7 linked regions of the Homo sapiens genome follow. The protein of the gene in region 7 interacts with the protein of the main gene of each other region in a biochemical or structural test. Each region holds a gene or a part of one and is shown on either strand. Other genes may lie near its edges. The genes, in order: RAB5B, GAK, ANKS4B, MAP2K6, LGALS8, SYNJ1 and LRRK2.

Region 1 (3,500 bases), about 16 Mb from region 7:
GCCACTGGGACCGGCCTCTGTTTTTATAAAGGGTTTCCATTTCTGGGGAAAAGAATGGGACTAAGAGGGCCAGCTCCATAATCAGGTCTTATATCTCTTTTCAAAAGCCTTACCGGCCCGGCGTGGTGACTCACGCCTGTAATCCCAGCACTTTGGGAGGCCGAGGCAGGCAGATCACCTGAGGTCAGGAGTTTGAGACCAACCTGGCCAACATGATGGTGAAACCCCCTCTCCACTAAAAATACAAAAATTAGACAGGTGCCACGGTGTGCACCTGTAATCCCAGTTACTCGGGAGGCTGAGGCATGAGAATCGCTCGAACCTGGGAGACAGAGGTTGCAGTAAGCCAAGATTGCGCCACTGCACTCCAGCCTGGGTAACAGAGCAAGACTCCATCTAAAAAAAAAAAAACCCTTACCAAACATTCAATCTCCTATTACCCCAAGGCACTCACCTCCAATGGTGCTCTCCTGGTACTCATGGAACTGCCCTTTGACAAAACGTAATACCAGGCTTGACTTTCCCACTGCAGATTCTCCCAGCAGGACCAATTTGAACTGGCAAATTTTGCTGGCCTGGGGTTGCCCATTGGGCCTAGCTGTGCTTCTGCTAGTCATGGCCAGATTATCAGAATGGGAAAGGGTGGAGGGAGGGGGATACTGTAAAGGGGGGAGGGGGAAGGGGAGGGGATTTCCAGGCTTCAACACTCCTGCAAGAAAAAAAAGTGAATAAAATTAAACATACGTCCATTGAAGCTGCAATCGCTTTTCAGAGAAGGATAGAACCTCTTCATCTCCTTGCTTCTATGAGGACTTAGCTCTGAGAAGGTCCCAGGCAGCTGATCCTCAGTGGTAAGAGTTGGGAAGAGCAAAATAAGAACTGCTTCTGGAGTCTGCCCTACCACATAATCTCTAACTGCCAAGGGAGCCGAAATAGAGAGACTGAAAACTGAGAGTTTTTAATTCCCCAGTAATTCCCCACCAGGTCTTCAAAGTTTTTTGTTTGAGTCACACAAAGTGATCAACCTTTAGCTGGCCTGAAGAATATCCAGATCCACCCACCGGTACCCTAGATCCCCAGTATCTCCTTGGCATCCTGGTGCTGTGCTCTTCTTTTCCTTTTCTTCTTTTTTTTTGAGACGTCACTCTTGTTGCCCAGGCTGGAGTGCAATGGCACAATCTTGGCTCACCACAACCTCTGCCTCCCGGGTTCAAGCAATTCTCCCACCTCAGTCTCCCGAGTAGCTGGGATTACAGGCATGCACCACCACGCCTGGCTAATTTTGTATTTTTAGTAGAGACGGAGTTTCTCCATGTTGGTCAGACTAGTCTAAGAAGTCCTGACCTCAGGTGATCTGCCCGCCTTGGCCTTCCAAAGTGCTGATATTACAGGCATGAGCCACCGTGCCTGGCCTTCTTTTCATTTTTCCTTAGCTCTTTGTCAAAATGAGAGATTCACTCTAGGGGTGTGGGATAAGAGTCACCACTCCTAAGGGCAGAAGGGTAGTTGCTGCTGTATCCTTTATATATGACCGGTCTCCCTGATAAGACATTTCTAAAGATCTAACCAGGGTCCCATTGCCACAAAATCTATCCTTTCTCATTTTTGGTTGAAGGTAAAGAGAGAAATACAACCAACAGATCACATTCATTATCAACTCTTTGTTTCATTAACAACTCTTTTTTCACTTTGTTTCTGCCATCTTTCCAAATCTGAAAGTCTATCAAGAATCAGTAAGCTTGACCTACTCTCAACTTGCAGCTGTCTTGCTGGTGCCTAGGGATTAGATTACCCTCCACACCAAAGGGGCCTAACAGCTGTAGCCCTCCAAATTAGAGGCAGAGAAAGGTATACCTTCTAAAGACATGCAGAAGTCTCCAGAGGATGGTATAGGGCGTTAAGTCTGCAAGCAATCAGTATTTGATGAAAGAATACACTGAATCAGCTCCTCTATCTTCTAAGAGGGCTAAGAAAGCTGCTGGTGGGGCAGGGAACAGAGAGAAGAGTTGGGACTTTGAGATTCTAATCGTCTAAATCTGAATACATTTCATCATCCTGACTCTGAGCGGAAAGGAACTATGAAATTCAAAGGGAAGTTAGCATAGGCAGAGCATGCAAAAACCTCTCTCCCAAACCTAAGCATTGCTTGAGAGTTGTACTTTGCTTGTTCAAATTACTCTTTCGCTTTTCCAAAGCAGATCCTAGTGACTTCACAGACATCATACTCTATGGCATATGTGGGGAAACATCATTATTTTGTCACCACAATTAGTGGGACTGGAGTTAAACTGGGGTTAAAAATTTTCAGTAACCCCACTTACTAGATCGTAAAGACAGAAAATCATACAGGAGGCAATTCAGAGGAATAAAGGCTCTGGAGTCCAATTCTCCACGTTTGTTTTTCAGCTCTACTTACTAGCTATGAACCTTGAGCAAGTCACTAAATATATGTGTGCATTCATTTCCTCATCTGTAAAATGAGATAATAGCCTTATAAGCACCTACTTCATAAGGGTGTTGTAAGGATTAAATGAGATAATGCATATAAATAACTAAAGTATTTTAAGTATTTGATAGATACTAAGTGCTAAATAAATATTAAGCTACTAATCATTACTAATATGATATAAAGAGAATTTCTCTACCTCTCTAAGCCTTACCTTCTACCTTTGTAAAATGGAAAAAATACCATCCTCATAGCTACAAATAATAAGTGAAAGATGTGTTTAGCATAGTGCTAATAGCTATTAAAATATATCTCAATATTAGTTGTTATCAATATATTCCTAAAAAGCAGCCACAGCCTGGGTGCAGTAGCTCATACCTATAATCCCAGCACTTTGGGAGGCTGAGGTGGATCACCTGAGGTCAGAAGTTCGAGCCCTGCCTGGCCAACATGGTGAAACCCCGTCTCCACTAAAAATACAAAAAAAATTAGCTGGGTGTGGTGGTGCATACCTGTAATCCCAGCTACTCCAGAGGCTGAGGCAGGAGAATCGCTTAAACCCAGAAGGTAGAGGGTGCACTGAGCTGATGCGCCACTGTGCTCCAGCCTGGGTGACAGAGCGAGACTCCGTCTCAAAAAATAAAAGGCGGGCACAGTGGCTCACGCCTGTAATCCCAGCACTTTGGGAGGCAAAGGCAGGCAGATCAGGAGGTCAGGAGTTTGAGACAAGCCTGGCAAACATGGTGAAACCCCGTCTCTACTAAAAATACAAAAATTAGCTGGGCGTGGTGGCGCGTGCCTGTAGTCCCAGCTACTTGGGAGGTTGAGGCAGGTGAACTGCTTGAACTTGTGAGGTGGAGGTTGCAGTGAGCTGAGATTGCACCACTGTACTCCAGCCTGGCGACAGAGCAACAGCGAGACTCAGTCTAAAAAAAAAAAAAAAAAATTAGCCGGGTGTGGTTGGTGGCCGGCATTTGTAATCCTACTCGGGAGGCTGAGGCAGAACTGCTTAAACCCGGGAGGCGGAGGTTGCAGTGAGCCGAGATCGTGCCAC
Region 2 (3,500 bases), on a different chromosome or scaffold from region 7:
TGCACGCGGCTCATGCTCACTCACAGGCACTCCTACGCATGCATACATGTGCACACAGCTCAGGCACAGGCACTCGCGCGCATGTGCACACATGCATGCGGCTCACATGCACTCACAGGCACTCGCACACATGCATACACATGCACGCAGCTCACGCACACAGGCACTTGTGTGCATGCGTACACATGCATGTGGCTCACACACACTTGCATGCGTGTGTACACATGCACGCAGCTCACGCACACTCACAGGCACTCCTACTCATGCGTACACATGCACGCGGCTCATACAGGCACTCGCGCGCATGCGTACACATGCATGCAGTTCACGTGCACTCACAGGCACTCGCACACGTGTACACATGCACACAGCTCACGCGCACTCACAAGCACTCCTACACATGCATACACATGCACACACGCATACATGCTCCAACATGCACATGTGCTCATACACGTGCCTGCACACAATACGAGCACTCAGCTCACACAAGGATTCACAAGCACAAGGACTCACAAGCACCAGCACACATGCTCATACCAGCAATCACACACGCCTATGCACATACTCACACCAGCATTTACACACACATGCACACATGTTCACATATGTATGTTAACACACCCATTCCCTCACATGCACACATGCTCAAAGACACATGCACCCACGCTCACATGTGCAGACGCTGCGGTACATGCAGGCACAAGTGCACACACGTCTACCTGGTGCTGGGGACACAAAACAGTGATCACAGCACAGAACAAAAAACATAAGAAAAAGCCCGAAGGTGTCGCCAGCTGTGGAAGGAACGTGGGCCCACCAGGGGCCGCAGTTCCTGCATCACGGGCACCAGTCCAGCCCAGCTCCTAGGCTGTTTCCTGACATAGCCGACGCCCTTGAGCTGGTGCGACCGCAGGGCCAGATGAGCAGCCAGCGTGCTCCTGGGCGTTCAGCTCCTCAGAAGAGCCAGCGCATGGACCCCGCAACGCAGAGGGGCCGCACTCTGGAACATTCCCAGTGTTCCGTGAGCAGAGGCTGCCGGGCCTGTGGGCCGATGTCGGGGCCACCCCCGCACAGACGCGCCCTTGGACAGCCCACCCAGAGGGAGACTTTCTCCCACCACAGGCTGGGACTCACCTGGTCTAAGTCTGAGTAACTAGGGCTTTAACTCAAGGACTGGCTCAGTGAGGCGCCACCACCGAGGTTTCACCCAATTTACAGAGTCCCGGGAACAAGCCAGGAACGCCCCAGAGTGAGGGGCGACATTGCAGCAAGGGAGGGGAGGGCCCAGGCATCTCCTCAGCAGGGCCTTGCCCCCCAGGCGATGAAAGGAAAGGGATCTGCCTGGCTCTGTGGGATGCTGGGCTCATTCCGACTCCCTGGGAGAAGCGGGTGATGCTGTCCCACTGCCTCAGGGGCCCCTGTGGGGCCTGATGACCAGCTGTTCCACCGCAGCCAGGAAGCAAGGGCCGGGGCTGCAGCCTGGAACGAGCGTGCGGCAGGTCCAGGGCTCTGGAGCCTCACACTCACTTAGCGACGGACTGGATGACCTTGGAGGAGGTGTCCTTGAGGTTGGTGAAGAGCCGCTCTGTCCCACCCCGCAGAATGTCCAGGAAGCCGCCATACGGCTGGTCGTACTCCGCCAGCGCCAGGCCTGCAGGGAGACACAGTCTCAGCAGGCCCCAGGTGCTCGGTCCCACCTCCCCAGGTGCGGGTTGCTGGCTGGGCCCAGGCCCCAGGCGCTCGGTCCCACCTCCCCAGGCGCTCGGTCCCACCTCCCCAGGTGCAGGTTGCTGGCTGGGCCCAGGCAGCAGGAGCAGGGAGTGGGTGGTATGGCCAGGCCCCTGACCCACACGTACCCAGCGGGAAGCCAGGCCTCAGCACTGGCAGGTCTACCCTGTCCTCAGCCTTTCCAGAGACCCAGGAAATGGTCAATCTGGGTGCGGAAGGGCTATGTGGCCGCCTCAGCACAGCTGGGGCTGGGACTCTGTCTGTGGGGATAGTCCGGCCTCACGGCCACAGCTTCAGGCCACCATGACCCTGGACGTGAAGGCAGAGTGGTGGCCCCTGGCCTGGTGGGTCCTGCGAGTGAGGTCTTCACAGGCGGCTTTGGTGGCACAAGTGGTGTTAAAAAAAAAACACCTGGCCAAAGTCCCTCATGCAGACAGGAGACCGAGGCCCAGGCAGCACCGAGCAGATGGGGGCACTGCAGAACCCAGCAGCTCGAGGACTCACCCTTCCTCCAGCCAGCAGAGACCCAGCCAGCCACTACACCTGCATGTGTGGGACCCACACTGCACGGACCGGGGTGCCCCAGACATGGAGCTGAGCTCCTCCCTGGGAAGCGGAGGTGAAGGACCCAGGTGAAACCTCCCACACCGCAGTGGGGATGCGGGGCGAGGTCGGGAGGGGTCAGCGCCATGCAGAGCTGCAGACCCAGCCGCTGCCTGTCAGGGCCATGTCCTCGACGGCTCACCCGGAACCTTCTGGAACACTCCCGGCACGGAGTTCCAAGAGCATGCAGCGTCTGTCTCCAGGGCCCTCTCCACTCCTCACCAGCTGAGGGCCCTCCAGGGACACCCAGGCCCATCACAGGTGCCCACTCCTCATGCGGCAGAAGGGGCCACCTCACACTAGCGGCAGAACTGTCTTCCCCCACCGCCCTCCACTGTCCAATGCCTGCTCCTGCCCCCTGGCCTCAGGGTCGCTACTGTAGTAAATGGTTCACCTTGCCCACAGCAGGCCTGGCCCTTCATTCCCAGCTCCTGGGAAGGAACCTGGGATGCCCCCTCCAGCCCCAAAAGGGGTGTCTGTTTCCCTGGGGCCTTGGGCTGTGCCAGACACGACAATGTGATCTATGCTGGGGTCTTGGCCACGGCGCAGGCTGCCTCCCACATAACCCCTGAGCGAGGCCGCCTGGTCACTCGGGCCCGGTCTCCTGGGCCCTGCCCTGGAGCCTCTTCCCTTGGCTGGCTTTAGTCCGAATCCTGACCCCCTCCTGAACTGCACCAAGACACCAGCTTTGCTGAGCTCTGTGAGCCCCAGGGAACTGCCGAACCTGAGGGTGTGCTCAGGGACCCTGACCTCACAGTCATCTCTGGTGGGAGAGGAGGCCCCGGGAGAGAAGGACCCCAGACTCCATCCCAATGTGCTGCGGGTGCCCGGGGTGCAGCAGGAGCGAGGGACAGGTGGCGGGCACAGGACAGGGCACTCACCTCCACTGTAGCCACTGCCAGCGGGGCCCACGGGAGGGGGTGGCCCTCGGGACAGTGTGGCGCTCCCGTAGCCTCCATTCTGCTCCAGGAGCTGTGACAATGAAAATGCAGAGGTCAGTTCTCTAAACTGACAACTCACGCCTGCCCACGTCGGGCAGAGGTACGGTATGGGTGCCCTCAGAGCCCATCCTTCTGCCCCCTGATCTATGACACAGTGCAAGGGAGGAACTTCCCACAGGCTGAAGCATCAGCTGGAACTCAACAAACGCACGCAGCCCTCATCCC
Region 3 (4,086 bases), on a different chromosome or scaffold from region 7:
TCTTTAACTGCATCCTATAAATCTTGATATGTGGTATTTTCATTTTCATTCTGTTCCAAATATGTCTGATATAGGACTTGTATCCAGAGTATATAAATAATTCTTATAATTTATTAATAAGACAACCACTTAAAAATTGGGCAAAAAGATTTGAATAGAAGATGTAAGAATGGCTAATGGGCACATGAAAAGATGCTCAATATCTTAGTCATTAGGAAATTGAAAATTAAAGCCATAATAAGACCACTTCATATCCACTAGGATGACCATAAACAAAAAGATAGGCAATAATAAGGCTGGCAAGGTTGTGGAGAAATTGAAACCCTCATACGTTATTGGTGGAAATGTGAAGTAGTACAGCCACTTTGGAAAACAGTCTGGCAACTTCTGAAATTTAAATGTAAATTGCCATGCAACCCAGCAGTTTCACTCCTTGATATATACGCAAGACACATGAAAATATGTGTCCACACAGAGACTTGTACATCAGTGCTCATAGCAGCATTATTCATCATTACTGAAAAATGGAAACAACCCAAATATTCATCATATTCATGAAACATTGAATGGATGAAGAACATGTGGTATGTTAGCACAGTGGAATATTATTCAGCAGTGAAAAGAAAGAAACCATTACATGCTACACATGACAAACCTCAAAAAAGTATGTGAATTGAAACAAGCTATACACTAAAGACTATATATTGTAGGATTCCATTTGTCTGAAATGCCCGTAAAAAACAAATCTATAGAGACAGAAAGCAGACTGTGGTTTCCTGAGGTTGGGAGTGGAAATGGGATTGACAGCAAATGGCATGAGGGATCTTTAAGGGCTGATGGAAACTGGATTATGATAATGGGCATGCAACTCTATAAATGTCCTAAAAATCATTGAATTGTATGCATGAAATGGGTAAATTTAATGATGTTATACCTCAATAAAGCTGTTCTTTTTGGAAAAAACAGCTAGTGAACTAGAGTAGCTCTGCATTTTATTAAGAAATTATTTCTTACATCCTGTGCCTAGATGGCCAATATTACACTCAAGAAACTAATGGACATAGAAAAATTGAATGTACCTCCAAACACTCAAGATGAATACAGCAGTCTTCAATAGTCAACGTCATGGCCATTCCAGAGAGAAAAGGTCCAAGTTCAGTGCCTCGAACCTTGTTGCCTTCCGTGAAAGGAAGCAGTTGAAATGAGCTTTGCCCCTGGTGACACTCTTCCTTGTCACTAATTAACCAGCTCTATAGGAAGGTTGCTCCGCCAACACCTTGCTCTGCCTGGAGAGACATCTGGCCAAGTTCTGGTGAGCAGGAAAAATGTCTACTCGTTACCACCAAGCTGCTAGTGATAGTTACCTGGAACTTCTAAAAGAGGCTACCAAGCGAGATCTAAATCTTTCGGATGAAGACGGCATGACTCCTACTCTCTTGGCAGCCTACCATGGGAACTTGGAAGCCCTAGAGATAATCTGCAGTAGAGGGTAAGTTCAACCCGATGGTTTCTGTTGGAAACAGTGTTCATGGTAGGTTTTTGCAGACAGCAGCAAGAGGCAGGGACGTCAATACAAATACTTTATCCTCTTTCTAGATTGTCTAAATGATTGGATTTTTAGAGAAAGAGAGAAAACTATGCCTAGAGATGCTCTCTTTTCTCACTGAGGACTGGCACTATAGGAGTGGCTCATCCCTTAGCCACAATCAGAGGAGAGACCCTGAACTACGGCATTATCTGCATGGGGAAGAGGGAAGATATTTTAATTCTATGCCTTTAAAAATGCTTTTCATGAAATTTAAATAGTTTTCTCTTTTCAAAGAGGCCATTGTTTTACTTGGTTTTAAGTTGCCAACCTTGGTTGGAACAAATGACATGGTTTTAGTTTTTTTTTTATCTATGCCATCAAAATCTCACAGTCTTTTATTAACTTTCAATCCCAGTGCAAGCTCATGATTTTTTTATTTTTTATTTTTGACACAGGGTCTTGCTCTTTTGAATGGAGTTGCTGGCTCTACAAGGACTCTTTAGCCTATCTTAACTCTATCACTTCTTTGGCTAGTGGATAGATACACACACACACACACACACACACACACACACACACACCCCATCTCTTTGCCCAGATTTTAATGGAGGAGTAAGCTAGTTCCTCTGCTTGTTCTGCCTGTTATCAGAGGGCTAGGTTGTGTTGGCAACCGTAACCCAAGAGGGGTAAAGAAAGAGAAAAGGACAAGGTAAATAAAGGAGCCAAGTGAATCCAATTGAATACCCATTTATTCAGTATTTGTTATGTGCCAGCCACTTATCTCTTAAGATAAGAGATATTTTGCTAGCCACTGGGCACACTGTGATCAACAAGACAGCCACAGTCCCTGTCATAGTGAGCAGATTTGAGAGGGGAAGACAAGACATCTATGATATTTGTGTGTGTGTGTGTGTGCATGTTTGCTCTGAGACAGGGTCTCACTCTGTCACTCAGGCTGGAGTGCAGTGTCAAGATCATAGCTGACTGCAGCCTTGAGCCCCAGGCTCAAGTGGTCCTCCCATCTGAGCCTCCCGAGTAGCTGGGACAAGAGGTGTGCACCACCATGCCCAGCAATTTTTGTACTTTTTGTAGTGATGGGGTTTTGCCATGTTGCCCAGGATGGTCTTCAACTTATGAGCTCAAGCGATCTGACAGCCTCGGTCTCCCAAAGTGCTGGGATTACAGCTGTGAGCCACTGTGCCTGGCTCATCTATGATATTTGTTACAAAAAGGGAAATAGAGGGCACTAAATAGGCATCTACCTCAATCTCAGGGGTGAGGGAAGGCTTCCCTAAGGGGAAAGCATTTAAGCTGGGATTAGGAAAATGAGAACAAGTTGGCTAGACGAAAGAGTGTTTTCCCTAAGATGGAAAACTGCTCTAGTTCTGAGAACTAGAGAAGCTGAGTATGGCTGGATGTGGTTCAAGTAGGAGTGGGGTCAGGACAAGTATAAGAGATAAGACCAGATCACAAAGAGCCTTGTCAACTCTGGTAAGGACTTTATCCTAAGGGCCCAGGAAGCCATGTCTTGGGTAGGGAAGCTGCCAGAGTAGATTTATGTTTACAAAACTCACTCAGGTAGATGGATAACAGTCGGAGAGAATGTTTGGGGACTGTTTTAGTGGTCGAGATGAGTTGGACTAGGGTAGTGACATTGGGAATGGGAAGATATGGTTGGATTTGAGTGGCAGTTTGGATGTAGAATCAATAATGATTGACTGGATGTGGGCAGATAAAGGAAAAGGAGGGTTAAGGTCCCAGGTTTTGGATGTTGACACCCTTTATTAAAATAGGGGACATTTAGGAAGTGTCAGAAGAACCCAGGATTGGGAGAGTTCCTGAGTTGAAGATTGAATGAGAAAGTGAGTGAAGCAGATCTTCCCCATCTCTCTTGTCTGAATAAGACTTTCTTTTCTCAGACACATCGATCCCCATCAGCCAGCCTTCTCCAGTCATCTCATCTCTTCTCCTACTCAGCCTAGGGTTCCCCAGCTTTCTCCATCTACTGAAAGTCTACCTCATTCCACAAACTGCAAGATGTCAGTTACTTTAAAATCAAAGTATTAGCCTATTCTTGCATTGCTATAAGGAAATGCCTGGGCCTAGGTAATTTATAAAGAAAAGAGGTTTCACTGGCTCATAGTTCTACGGGCTGTACAGGAAGTATAGTAGCTTCTGCTTTTGGGGAGCCTTCAGGAAGCTTCCAATCATGGCAGAAGGAAAAGGCATCTCACATGGCAGAAGCAAGAGCAAGAGAGCAAGGGGGGAGGTGCTAGAAACCAGATCTAATGAGAGCTCACTATCATGAGGACAGTACCAAGGGGAATGGTGCTAAACCATTCATGAGAAATTCGCCCCCACGATCCAGTCACCTCCCACCAGTCCCTACCTCCAACATTGCGGATTACAATTTGATTTGAGGTTTGTTCCCCACCAAATCTCACAGATCCAAACTGTATCAACCAGTGAGTTTGTCCTCCTAGAAGAGGGTTTGGGGGTTCTGGGGTTCTTCTCAGCAGAGAGCTCTTGTTCCATTTGAGGACATTTTGAATAGTAAT
Region 4 (3,500 bases), on a different chromosome or scaffold from region 7:
AAATTCCTACAGAATACACTCGTTTTTCATTCTTCGACCATGTCTTTGGTGTAATGGATTTCATACCTTTATTTTGGAGTGACGTCTCAAGTGGAGTCGCCAGGAGCTCAGATTCTGAGGTCAGACAGACCTTGGCTAAAACCTCTGCTCTGCCACTATCGGTTTGGTAACTGAGGCAAGTTCTTAACCTCTCCGGCCTCAGTTTGCTGATCTACAAAATGGGATATCACCTCACTGATCCATAGTGAGAGTAAATGATAGAATTCACATTCATCACTAAGCACAGTATCTGGAGCACAGAAAGAATCACAGCAGTGATACCATCTGGGATGGTAGAAATTAGCACTTCTTTGTACGTGACTTAAATTTACATCATTCTGGATGTGGTGAACAAATCTGGGCTCATTCTACCAAAGCTCCTCTGTCTACATGTAGCTTTCACCTCCCTTCATTTTCAGACCCTCTATCAAAACCTTCTCTCCTAAATATACCCAATATCCACGATGTAAGCGACTCTGTGAGCACAAAGAATATTCGTCCTCAAAAGAAAATTGCCCACCCGGGGTTAGGGGGTTAATGTAAGAAAACAGCTCTAAACTTTGCAGGAGATGATAACTGGAAACCTCTCTGGTCCCATGCAGGGAGGCTTTCACGTTGACACAAAAGAAATGATGGAACCTCTGAGCTGGGTCATGATGATAACCAACAAGCCAGGCAATGGTGGTAGCAGGAGAGTTATTTTTGATTTCTTACGTCGGTGCAAAAGTAATTGTGGTTTTTGCCATGAAAAGTGATGATAAAAAACAATATTACTTTTGCACCAACCTAATACTTTCTAAAGAAATGTGGGATCAATAAGGGGAGGATGAAGAGTCTCAGGGAAGAATTAATAAGCAGCTTCTCATCGAAGGGAAGAAAAAAAGGAAAGAAATATAAAGCAAACAGGAAGAACACAACTAAGGGGAAAAGACCCCAGGACGGGCAAAAGGAGACGGGTAACTTAGTTCAGAGGAAATGAGCAATGACCTACAATTCTTATAACTAGGAGAGACACCACTCAGACGTTTCCTGTGGGCTGGGCCCAAGAGGTCTCTGGCTGAGCAGCAGAGCAGTAGTTATCCAGGTTAACAACTTCCAATTAAAGCCAGAGAGGAATGTTTCTGGGAGCTCTGTCATGAAGAGACCCCAGTATTCGATGGAATAAAGTCATAAAGGAAAGGGTCAACAAACATTTTCTGCAAGGGACCAGATAGCAAATATTTTTGGCTTTGTGGGACATAGGGGCTCTGGCGCAACTACTCAACTCGACAGCTGTCGAGCAAAGAGCAGCCATGGAAAACATATAAATGAATGACCATAGCTGTGTTCCAATAAAACTTTGTTTGTCGATGCTGAATTTGAATTTCGTATCATTTTCATGTGTCATGAAACATTGATTTTGATTTTTTTTCAATCATTTAAAAATGGGAAAACCATCTTCGCTCACGGGCTATACTTAAAAACAGCTGAGGCTTGGCCGGGCACGATGGCTCACGCCTGTAATCCCAGCACTTTGGGAGGCCGAGGAGGACGGATCACAAGGTCAAGAGATCGAGATCATCCTGGCCAACATGGTGAAACCCCGTCTCTACTAAAAATACAAAAAATTAGCTGGGCGTGGTGGTGCACACCTGTAATCCCAGCTACTCGGGAGGCTGAGGCAGGAGGATCGCTTGAACCCAGGAGGTGGCGATTGCAGTGAGCCAAGATCGCGCCATTGCACTCCCAGTTGGGCAACAAGAGCGCAACTCCATCTCAAACAAACAAACAAACAAACAAACAAAAACAACAGCTGAAGCTAGATTTGGCCCAGGAGCTGCAGTTTGCTGCACAGGCCCACCAGTCAGACATCCATCCTGCCTCTGCCACTGACTCGCTATCCAGCCATGGGCAAATTGGTTAACAACAATTGATTTCCTCACTCGTAAATTAAGGATAATAACACCAACTTTGTCCATAGTGTTTATGGGACATCCTAAAGCATACTATATGAAAAGTAACTGGCTTAGGGTAAGTGATGATGACAACAGCCTTGGGAGTGGTACAGGGAGGGGTTGTGATCAGCAGCTCCACCTGGGGCTAATGGTCTGTCCAAAGAAGACTAATCTCAAGAATCTGACTTAAGAAGGGATGTACAGACCAGAAAGTAAAACAGATGACAGGGATGCTGCAAATGCTTATTTAATGCTTCAACTCAGACTGGAGTTGACTAAATTACGATGATTTGGCCAGGCGTGGTGGCTCATACCTGTAATCCCAGTGCTTCGGGAGGCCGAGGTGGGTGGATCACCTGAGGTCAGGAGTTTGAGACCAGCCTGGCCAACATGATGAATCCCTGTCTCTACTAAAAATACAAAAATTAGCCTGGTATGGTGGCAGGCACCTGTAATCCCAGCTACTCGGGAGGCTGAGGCAGGAGAATTGCTTGAAACTGGGAATCAGAGGTTTCAGTGAGCTGAGGTTGCACCACTGCACTCCAGTCTGGGTGACAGAGCAAGACCCCATCTCAAAAAAAAAAAAAAAAAAAAAAAAATTACGATGATTTCTGATAGACTTCATTGTATGGGGATTATAACCTGAATATCCTCCTCAACTCAGAAAGAGGGAGATTATGGACTACATACTGAACCGCATGGGCCAACTCAGGAAGACCATCAAAGGAGACAGAGTGGGGTACAAGCCAGGGAGGAAGGGGCTGGGCAGAGGCAGTGGAGGTGGTCAAGGAGGAAGTGAAGAATCATTTCACTGGGAGGTGATCCTTGCGAAGTTCCCTGTTTTGTTAGAGGGCAGCCAGCTGTTAAAAACACTGTCTCTGGGCCGGGCGTGGTGGCTCACACCTGTAATCCCAGCACTTTGGGAGGCCGAGGCGGGTGGATCACGAGGTCAGGAGATCGAGACCATCCTGGCTAACACGGTGAAATCCCATCTCTACTAAAAATACAAAAAAAATTAGCCGGGCATGGTGGCGGCAGGCACCTGTAATCCCAGCTACTCCGGAGGCTGAGGCAGGAGAATGGCGTGAACCCAGGAGGCGGAGGTTGCAGTAAGCTGAGATCGCACCACTGCACTCCAGCCTGGGTGACAGAGCGAGACTCTGTCTCAAAAAAAAAAAACAAAAAACAACAACAAAAAAAGGATTGTCTCTGACAATCCTTCAGAAGCCTCATAGACTTAAAAACCAGCTCCTAAAACCAGCACAGGATGCAGAAATCACTTCAATTCTATTGGATGGGATTCTTCGGACAATTCATCTTCTCATATTTTTTAAAAAGAAAGTTAGCAGAGAATTGTGCAACCTTTAAATCTGTTCAGAAGGCTTAGGTAGGAGAAATGACACTTCGCCAGCCATTATAAGTTGCTTTTCATGCTGTTCTTGCAACTTCCAAATAATTAAGCAAATACATAATGGGAATATCAGTGCAAACAAAGAAGAAGCACAAGAAGAAAATTGCATTGTAATT
Region 5 (2,750 bases), on a different chromosome or scaffold from region 7:
ATAAGCCTCTCCTGCCTATCGTATAGAGCTGCAGAAAGAGTAAATGATACACGGTATTTTTATACAGACTGCTGTGTTTGTTTAAACATTTATTATTCTCTTCCTGATTGATGGTAATAATATTAGACTTGTTAATTTTAGCACCCAAAGCTGACGCCTCATTTGCACTGTAAGCCTTAACTCTTCTGTACAGCAGTATCTTACATACATGGTATCCATGTTGCAGATTTCACTCAAAGTTGCTCTATTTCAAGAAAATGAAGTTATTTAGCAATCAACAGAAGTACTTTTGACTGTAAAGCCTACTTTTCATTTTGGGTAGGCGAACTTCAGCCTTCGTTTCTTTGTTGTGCCCATAAAGAGAAGTGGTTCTGGAATGCTTTTTTTAACCCAGGAGTGTGACTGTCACCTTTATCCTTTGTTCTTTTGGGAAACGGGAGAGATGAAGGCAACACGCTGCTTCTAAAACAGCTCACACCTGGCTGCTCACACAGAGGGCCCAGAAACACTGGGTGGCACGAGGAAGCTCCTCCAGGATTCAGAATGAACCCAGTTCCATTGGTGGTTAACTAAGAACTACTTGTCTAAGAAAGTAAGTATCAGTAGATTTTTTTCAATGCTTTGAAGTGCCCTAATCTCTAGTACTGGGTCATGGTGAAGTTGGAAAGTGAGGGTTCAAATAAAATTAGATCTGCCCCCTTTTTAAAGGCATCTAAGAACATCCCGTAGAATGTTCGCATTGAGTTTAAAAGCCTTTGAAGCTAATATAGAAGTTTAATGCAGAAATGTGGCAAGCAAAAGGCCAACTTGCATTTTAGAGACAGAGCTTGCTAGTATAGAAGTGCATATTTCTAAGAAATGTCTCAGTAAAATTCATTAATAAATACTAATAGCTTTTTAAATTTTTTTCCTCCACGTAAAATGAAAATGAACTTAAGACTTACAAGGAATGATGTGAGTGGGCTATTTTTTTCCTAAATGCCTCACAGTCTCCAACAGCTCAGTTAAGCACTCTGATGGTCTTTATGGAGAAAAATAACTCTGGGGGATTCTCGAGTCTTCTTGCCTTCTACAGCTTTCCCTGTGGCACCCTCCACCCCCAACCAGTGTCTTTGAGCTTGGTGAGACTCTGCATACATTAATATGAAAAGCTGGAAAAGAATTAAGGGCTAGCGATTTCTACACTGAGTACTTTTAAAAAAATAAGATTGACAATGGTATTCTTTTCAATATATGGATAGAAATAATATCTAAAATCTGTTCTGAAAATATTCCTAAATCCTGGCAGAGTTCTGCCCCAGTCTAATGTGATAAAATGATCCTCACTGACTGAGCTTTTTTCCCTCCCCACTCCCAAACCTTTGAAATTTCCTGTAACAAGATCTGACCTGTAAAGATCCCATATACATGGAACTTCTGCCAACTCCCCTCAAATAATAGAAAAATCACAGAAATGGAACCATTTAACTTGCTGATACAGGTTTGATTTTAATCACGTAAAGTGGAAGAGTGCTTTGATCTCAGTTGCTAATGATGATGGACTAATCTTTAGAAGAACGGAGGCCTTGATTGGTGATTTCATGGGAACAAAACAGATTTCTGCATTACCTCTGCCTGCTTTGTGGGTCCCTTAGTTGGCGTACACTTTCTGATAGTGCCTGCCTTATGAATGCCTGAAGTCTAATCCTGACCTTACTTTGTTGCCCATAAATATCTTTCAAATTGAATGCATCTTGCCTCTTCCTGAAACTTTCTGTAGGCGTCTGTGTAGACTCTGATTTGCCCTAAGTTCAAATACACAGAAATCAGCTGCCTTGGGCTTGGCATCAAGTTAATTTCAGCACCATGTATTTGTTTTGCTTTGGTTTTTTGCCTTAATTTCTGTGCTCAGATGTCATGCCAATTACTTGGTAAAGCTTGCAGCTAATAGAGCCACATGTTTATTACGATAAAGAAAATGATGTCAGTCAACATCAGTCCTCAGTGATGGGATACGGTAGAGCACTGGTTATGACAGTGATCACTGGGGAAGGAGTTGTGTCTTCTGTAAGTTAGTGTCTTCGGGTGATTTAATATCTGCATAACTAATCCCAGAGGACCCCTTAGGAGTTGATGTAATGCCTGTAGAAAAAGCAGTGCGCAGCAGTAGCGCACAGAAGAGTCGAAGCTCAAGAGAACAGGGAACATACTGGTTTGTTTCACCAAGTATATATCCTAGCTCTTCACAGTTTTACCAAAAAAAATCTGTGCTCAATACATGTTAGCTACTGTATTATAGTAGGTACTCCATAAATACTTGTTGAATGGCATTCTTGAAGAGTCAGCCAAAGTAGGAGAGAGGGCAGAGTGGCTTTAACTGGCTATAAGTGTTGCTGCCCCCAGTTTCCCCATTCAGTGCTAGACACCACCATACTTCATGGCAAGGACTGAGAACACCCAGCAGGACCTAATGGTGCACAAGCTCATTTTAACAATATAAACAATAGAATGACAGTGAGATGCGTTTCAGCAAGGCCAGTATCACAGAAGCCATTCTGTATTTTGGTTTTTGTAGCAGCTGTGTAGGTAGGCTACCAGCTCCTTACTTCCAGTAAGTGGATGTCTCCATTAATTTCCAGCGTGTCAATACTGCTGAGCTCTTTAAATCTGTGTTTGTACTCCAGGCTGTGTACGCCATTTACTGCAACCTTGAATTCTCTAACATCACAATAAATTATCATCTGAAAGGAAAGGATACATGCCATTAGTGG
Region 6 (3,500 bases), on a different chromosome or scaffold from region 7:
CCTTCCACTGAATACACAATTTAGTGTGGCTCAGTGAATCTGCATTTTTGCATAAACAATAGGGCAGAGGAAGCAGTCAGATGTGCATTTGTCTCAGGTGAGTCTCAGAGGGATGACTTTGAGTTCAGTCTATACTTTGTCCACAAGGAATTTCCTGTGGGCAAATTGTGAGGGAGTTATGTAGCTTCTTATCTTTGGAGCTATCTTATTTAGGAGTAAAATGGGAGGCAGGTTTACCTGTCATAGTTCCTGGCTTGATTTTTCTCTGGGCTTAGTGATTTTGGGGTCCTGAGATTTATTTTCGTTTCACATGTGTTATTACTGTTGGGTCAAAGAAACAGGACATGGGAGGAGACAAGCATATCTCAGGCAAAGAAATAGTTGTAAAACATTTTTGAACATTGATTGTTTTGAATTTAAAATTCTATCTCATTGCTTTCAGGGAAGGATGCTATTTTCCCATGACTATGTATTTTGGTGTGGTGATTTCAACTATCGAATCGATCTCCCTAACGAAGAAGTTAAAGAGCTCATAAGACAGCAAAATTGGGATTCTCTTATAGCAGGAGATCAACTTATCAATCAGAAAAATGCTGGACAGGTATATCTATACTTGAGAAAATACTTGCATTAAGATTTTGGGTCGTGAAACATGCCTTTTTAAATCAAGATGTTTTAAAATTTTCTTGGGGTCTTTTTGTACTTAAATATGCATCTGTAGGTAAACAGATAATAGAATTATCTTTCCTTAAAGTGTAGCAGGATGAGCTGCAGACAAGAACCCTTCAGACACCAAGTTGTAGAAGGAAAGGGCTTTATTCAGCTGGGAGCAGCAGCGGACTCACGTCTCCAAAAACCGAGCTCCCCGAGTGAGCAATTCCTGTCCCTTTTAAGGGCTTACAGCTCTAAGGGAGTCCATGTGAGAGGGTCGTGATCGATTGAGCAAGCAGGGGGTATGGGACTGGGGGCTGCATGCACTGGTAATCAGAATGGAACAGGACAGGGATTTTCACGATGCTTTTCCATACAATGTCTGAAATCTATAGATAGCACAAGCGGTTAGGTCAAGGGTTGATTTTTAACTACCAGGCCCAGGGCACAGTGCTGGGCTATCTGCCTGTGATTCCATTTCTGCCTTTTAGTTTTCACTTCTTTCTTTGGAGGCAGAAATTGGGCATAAGACAATATGAGGGGTGGTCTCCTCCCTTATTCCCCCCTTTGAGAACTTCACTCATTAATGGGAGTTCTCACTTTCATCCTCATTACCCATGTCTTCTTGCAAGACAGATTGATAGTGATTCATATGGTACACTTGCGCTGAAGCATTTTGGTGAGCTAAGGTAGTGATGAAGCTTTTTATCATTTGAAGAAGTACAAGTAGCAAACAAGGGAGCAGTAAGCAGGTTCCTATTACTATTATAACTCCTATTATAAGAGTTTTAAATCCTCCTAGCACTGGGAACCATTTTTCAAACATGGCCCCCGGATCAAATCCATGCCACACTTGCACAGGCACATGTGTCAGTTTTGTCATATCTCTAATTATGTCTTCAACTACTTGCCCTTCATCATCTGTGTATAGACAGCAATTAGTAAGGTTAAATTTCCCACAGACCCCCACCTTCAGCTGCTAGCAAGTAGTCGAGAGCCAATCTATTTTGATAGATAGCATTTCTCATCTGAGACTCTTGCCAGGGCAGTATAGTCAAGGCTCTGCCAGTTTTATTAGTGATTATTTCTAAGACAGCTTGTAACCGTATGATTCGGTTGAGCATGTAAATGGGGGTCCAGTATCCCCACGAGCCATCTTGTGCCCAAGTAGCAGGTCTGTAATATTGTATGATTCTCTCAGGGGGCCATTCATCATCTTTCCAATTTCCTATAGCTATGCTTCTCTTTTCTCGGGCAGCATAGACAGGGAAACCCAGGAGTTTGCCTGTCTTTATGGGCAGTAGGAAGAAAGATGGTTTAATAGTGCCAATAACACAACTACCTGTCCACTGGTTGGATAATTTGGCACAAGCTCTATGCCCACATATACAGTATAATCCAGTGGGGGCTGTCCAGTCCTGGTGGGACTCCGGATGGGTCCACACGGTTTGCAACTTTGGGAATTTACTAAATGGATTCCTTTCTGTGTGATTTGAACTCCACCAAGTGACTGTTTTTGTGGTACCATTATACAGTTTCTGTCCCAGACAACTAAGTCATCCTACGGGGTGAGTGAATTCTTTTCCTTCTCCAGCTATGCAATATTGTCCAATAATTGAGGTTTTTAGGACCCAGAAATTATCAGGGTGATTCTTTTGAGCTGGGAATTCATCAGGAACTGGGTCTGTAGGTACTAATTCTCGGGCTTCTCGTGGCCATTGATCTCCCATTACAGTTCCTCCACATACATAATGTGAAGCAACATTGAGAGACTAGGCTACATGCTTGGCTAATTGCAAAAACAAATTTCTTGTTTTTCCTGGAATTTCTGGTACTGGCACATTTAGTTCATCATAGAAAGTTTGAAGCACTGGCTCAGGAGAGTGTTTGTAAACTTCTCCTCGAACTAAGATATTTACTCGAGGATCCAGTCCAGCCCCATTGATTCCTAAGGTCACACGCTCCCCTTTTTTCCAGCGAGGATCAAGGGGATTGGTTATTACTAGCTCTAAGGGGTTACATTGTCCCTTAGTACAGGAAGGGCCACTTTTTCCTTTCTGAAGCTGCACTGGATCCTTTTCATTTTTTATCCAAGTGGCCCAAATGACACCAGTATCCACATTGATTTCCACACAGTCCTAATTCATGACAAATATACTTATTTTTGGTCATATAGCCTTTTTCCCAATCAAAAGCCACACCCCTTCCTAACTTATTGCTCTTAATGACAGCACAGGCATCAAATTTCAAGATTATGCGTTTGGGCACCCCTTTTTCTTCTGTTTTGGCTAATACTTGTATCATTTACAAGTCCCCATCAGTCTTCAGTCCTTAATCTTACTTCAAAAACTGTGGACCTGGGAGGCCACAGAGGGATCATAACACACATCTGGGCAGTCGTTTCCTAGGCTACATACCTCGTACTGAGTGTCATTATATAAACACGTTCCTTTTAAAGTTCCTAGGCATTCATAGTAACTATAGAACAGAAAGATTGTTTTAACTTGTTACCCTACCTCAGTAACCTGATGTATACACTGAGAGCAGTCTTCTATGCAGGGAAAATCAGTGGAAGTTTTTACTATACAAGTCCAAATTATAAGGAAAATGAGTCCCACGATGATTCTCCTCATGCCTCGGCCGTGCGTAGACCAGTCAGCTTCCGGGTGTGACTGGAGCAGGGCTTGTCATCCTCCTCAGAGTCACTTTCAGGAGTTGTCTGGGCTCGGTTTTGCCTCCCAAGTTTCAGCAGCTGCAGGTTTCACACGGCTGTGGTGGATCCAGGCTGGGATTCCTTCTCCTTTACAGCCGTGGGGGTGGTCAGGATGATGGTGTGAGGTCTTTTCCAC
Region 7 (3,500 bases):
CACACCACTGAAGTGGAAATACCTGTCTTGGCTCTCCAGAAAAATAAATAGCTCCACAAAGAGGAAATGTACCCTGTGGCTTCTCAGACGCATGAACAGAATCCCATACATTTATATTTTAAAATATATTCACAAAACAAGTCTATTCATATCTATTAAGGTGGGTCGTATTACTCACTGCATAATAGTTACTGCTATCTTGGGAAAAAGAGTTACCAAAAGCCTGAATGCATTGCTGCCCTACAAATAAAAATGGAAAGAGGGAAAATTGAGAGAGGCATAACCTTCTCCAGATTACTCTAATATAAAGATGCTGGAGTCGCTACCTGTAAAATGTTTTTAGAAGGATACACCTAATTTGTTTAAATCACTGGTATTCAACCCCACCCCTTATCTTTGGCAACATCCGGAGACATTTTTGATTGTCACATCTGAGGGAAGGGGAGATACTACTGACATCTAGTGGATAGACAGAGATGCTGCCAAACATTCTGCAGTGCACAGGATGACCCTCGATAAGAAAGAGTTAGTTATCCAAGCCAAAATGGCAACAGCTCAAAGACTGAGAAACTCCTATCTAGACTGCTTTCTGTAAATGAACATGGGATTTATGGATTTATGGGACATGGGTCTAGAGAAGGGAGAGTAATCACAAACATTTTCCTATATGGGTAGCTAAACAGACTTTGCTTTTTTGTTTTTTGTTTTGTTTTGTTTTGAGACGCTCTGTCGCCTAGGCTGGAGTGCAGTGGCACAACCTCGGCTCACTGCAACCTCCGCCTCCCAGGTTCAAGCAATTCTCTGCCTCAGCCTCCCGAGTAGCTGAGATTACAGATGCCCACCACCACACCCAGTTAATTTTTTTGTATTTTTAGTAGAGATGAGGTTTCACCATCTTGGTCAGGCTGGTCTTCAACTCCTGACCTCGTGATACACCCACCTCGGCCTCCCAAAGTGCTGGGATTACAGGAGTGAGCTACTACACCTGGCCAACTAAACAGACTTTGTAAATGACGTTTCCACATACACTACTCAAAACGTGTCCATTCATCTGAAACACATTTTAATGCAGGAAAAAGAAATATTTTAGGGATCTGTGTCTGACAGTTTGGGATTTCTTCAGAGGAAGGATGCACCATGTCTGGTACTTTCCTGTATACCTTGAAGTCTGGGGTTAAGATGTAGGATTCAGCAAGGACAATTCAGCATTTTATGTTAACCCACTATTACTAATACATTAACTTCCTGAGTTCCAAAGCATTTAAATTCAACCTAAACTTCCCAATCAATGCCAATAAGAGGGGTATAAAGGAGTTTATTTAGCTTTAAATATCATGTCTCAAATTTTGGACAACTTTTTGCTAATAATATTATGTCCTGACTGACAGATCTTAGGCATTATTTCTGGGGTAATTTGATTAAAATTAAATGTATACACACAACAACAACAAAAACTAAACAAAGTAAGGTCAAAATTGTCTTCAAATGCTTTATATTAAATCAATCTAATGCATTTCATAGTTGTCCCAATGACTCTCAGGAATGTTTAAAACTTGAGTATGTCAGCCTACAGTTAATAATAACATACTGTATACTTGTAAATTGCTATGAGAGTAGATTTTAATAGTTCTCACCACATAAATATTTGAGATAATGTATATGTTAAATAGCTAAACTTCTCCATTCCACAACATATACATATATCAAAACATCATGTTGTACACCATAAATATATACAATTTTTACTTGTCAATTAAAAAAATTTGTACAAAGTATATCTTTTTTTAAAAATGATAACCGAGGAGCCAGACAGATCACAGCATCGCAGGTCTTGTAAAGACATTAGCTTTTATTCTGAGAGACATGAGAAACCACACATGTAATCTACAGAATGACATACAGTAACATATGTTGACTGTTTCTTTCCCAAAGTAGTTATAATGCATACACTTTTCATCTTCTGAAGTGTATGAGCATGTTTTAAAAACATCTTTTAGGCCCAAAAATCCATGTGCAGGAAGTCAAGATACAAATGAGAATATTGAAACATGGTTACCATGACTTCACCTTTTCTCAATGAGCACCTAAACATGCTACATGAATTCAATGATTTCCATCATACTCTACTGAAAATCACTGATTGAATTCACGGAACCAAGAAATGTAAATTGTTCAGCATATCAAAAAAAAAAAAAAAAGTATTTGAGTATGTCACCATGTAACACTTTTGACTTTAATTTCAAGGCTTTTAATGAATATTTCTATGAGAATTCAGCATTGTCACACTGAGTCATAAAACCCCTGCTATGGCTACACTGAGGTGTGCTTCCTTTACCTATTCTGTCATTTTATAAAATATGGCTGCTTCACTTAACTCACCTGAAAACTGTCTTATTTGCCTCCCATATCCCTGGCAATTAAGGCAAATACAAAGATATATTTCATAAATATTTCTGCTTCCATGATAATCTCATCCTCATCTTGATCCTAGTCTACATGATTATGTGCAAAACAAATTCCAGATCTGTAATATTATATTCCTTTAAAATATATCATTCCAAATACAAAAATTATAACAAATATATGAAGACAGTAAAATCTATGACAATATAATTATGAAATCTATTTTCTAAATTATAAGGAGAAAATTACATCCTAATTTTTATTCTCAAATTAACAAAAAGAATTACCTAGGAGAAACTCTGGAGCTTGTTCAAATTCCAACTCATCATTATTCAACATAATATTTCTAGGCAGGTCAGCCAAAATCAAGTCAGGGGCAATCTGAGATATTGGAATGGTGAGCCTTGGTTGATCTGGATTTACTAAGAGATCTCCTGAGAAGTAATAAAACATTTTTTAAATAAAAACAACATTTAAGGAGATACATAAATTTGTGGTTTTGATGTGAAAAAATAATGGAATATTTTCTATAATTTCTAATCCCTCCCTTTCTAACCAATCCTATATTTCTCTAGGAAATTTGAGAACATTTTAAAGATTCACTTAGTATCTATCTACTTGGAATTTTAAAAACTTATTCCTACGTTCACTTGTAGAATTCTGAACTGCTGCAGACTACCAGACATCTGACTAGAAAGTTATCTACTCTCTGCTTTTGCCACATTCATGAAGCTGCAGCTGTTATTATATGGCAGACATGTTGGTAAATTAGGTCCATGTATTGTCTATTTGAATCTTTATAACAGTTCTATGAGATAGATGTGGTTGGTATTCCGGTTTCACAGATGAGGTTATGTTGCTCAATAAGCCAGCATTCAAACCCTCAAATCAACATTTTCTGAATCTAGAATACAAGATTTTATTGGTAATAAATATAATTCAGTTTTCTGAACTGTCCCTATAATTGAATATACTATTTTTCAACTCATCCCTTATGGATAAGAATATTTACATTTATTAAAAGTCACTTCATAAGTATTGAAGGATCACTTAAAAGCATTTGTAAGTTGTATCAAAACATACCTTCCTCTGCTTTC

What was found.
Region 1: of the proteins of LRRK2 (region 7) and RAB5B, one has a biochemical effect on the other in vitro, tested with the Homo sapiens proteins (2 studies listed by IntAct).
Region 2: the proteins of LRRK2 (region 7) and GAK interact on a protein array, tested with the Homo sapiens proteins (3 studies listed by BioGRID and IntAct, with this or other methods).
Region 3: the proteins of LRRK2 (region 7) and ANKS4B interact on a protein array, tested with the Homo sapiens proteins (2 studies listed by BioGRID and IntAct, with this or other methods).
Region 4: of the proteins of LRRK2 (region 7) and MAP2K6, one has a biochemical effect on the other in vitro, tested with the Homo sapiens proteins (2 studies listed by BioGRID).
Region 5: the proteins of LRRK2 (region 7) and LGALS8 form a complex in vitro, tested with the Homo sapiens proteins (2 studies listed by BioGRID and IntAct, with this or other methods).
Region 6: of the proteins of LRRK2 (region 7) and SYNJ1, one has a biochemical effect on the other in vitro, tested with the Homo sapiens proteins (2 studies listed by BioGRID).

What each region holds. Positions count from the first base shown.
Region 1 is NC_000012.12:55,984,078-55,987,577, reverse strand, and holds part of RAB5B (ras-related protein Rab-5B), read right to left. Parts: intron 710-3,500; coding exon of another isoform or gene 618-709; coding exon 455-617; intron 1-454. UniProt on the Homo sapiens protein: The small GTPases Rab are key regulators of intracellular membrane trafficking, from the formation of transport vesicles to their fusion with membranes.
Region 2 is NC_000004.12:887,317-890,816, forward strand, and holds part of GAK (cyclin-G-associated kinase), read right to left. Parts: intron 3,307-3,500; coding exon 3,216-3,306; intron 1,655-3,215; coding exon 1,531-1,654; intron 1-1,530. UniProt on the Homo sapiens protein: Associates with cyclin G and CDK5. Seems to act as an auxilin homolog that is involved in the uncoating of clathrin-coated vesicles by Hsc70 in non-neuronal cells. Expression oscillates slightly during the cell cycle, peaking at G1.
Region 3 is NC_000016.10:21,232,413-21,236,498, forward strand, and holds the start of ANKS4B (ankyrin repeat and SAM domain-containing protein 4B), read left to right. Parts: upstream 1-1,286; 5' UTR 1,287-1,325; coding exon 1,326-1,489; intron 1,490-4,086. UniProt on the Homo sapiens protein: As part of the intermicrovillar adhesion complex/IMAC plays a role in epithelial brush border differentiation, controlling microvilli organization and length. Plays a role in assembly of the complex.
Region 4 is NC_000017.11:69,421,197-69,424,696, reverse strand, and holds part of MAP2K6 (dual specificity mitogen-activated protein kinase kinase 6), read right to left. Parts: intron 1-3,500. UniProt on the Homo sapiens protein: Dual specificity protein kinase which acts as an essential component of the MAP kinase signal transduction pathway.
Region 5 is NC_000001.11:236,547,982-236,550,731, reverse strand, and holds part of LGALS8 (galectin-8), read right to left. Parts: intron 2,721-2,750; coding exon 2,571-2,720; 3' UTR 1-2,570.
Region 6 is NC_000021.9:32,662,014-32,665,513, reverse strand, and holds part of SYNJ1 (synaptojanin-1), read left to right. Parts: intron 1-442; coding exon 443-601; intron 602-797; exon of another isoform or gene 798-3,500. UniProt on the Homo sapiens protein: Phosphatase that acts on various phosphoinositides, including phosphatidylinositol 4-phosphate, phosphatidylinositol (4,5)-bisphosphate and phosphatidylinositol (3,4,5)-trisphosphate. Has a role in clathrin-mediated endocytosis.
Region 7 is NC_000012.12:40,322,497-40,325,996, reverse strand, and holds part of LRRK2 (leucine-rich repeat serine/threonine-protein kinase 2), read right to left. Parts: coding exon 3,487-3,500; intron 2,838-3,486; coding exon 2,691-2,837; intron 1-2,690. UniProt on the Homo sapiens protein: Serine/threonine-protein kinase which phosphorylates a broad range of proteins involved in multiple processes such as neuronal plasticity, innate immunity, autophagy, and vesicle trafficking.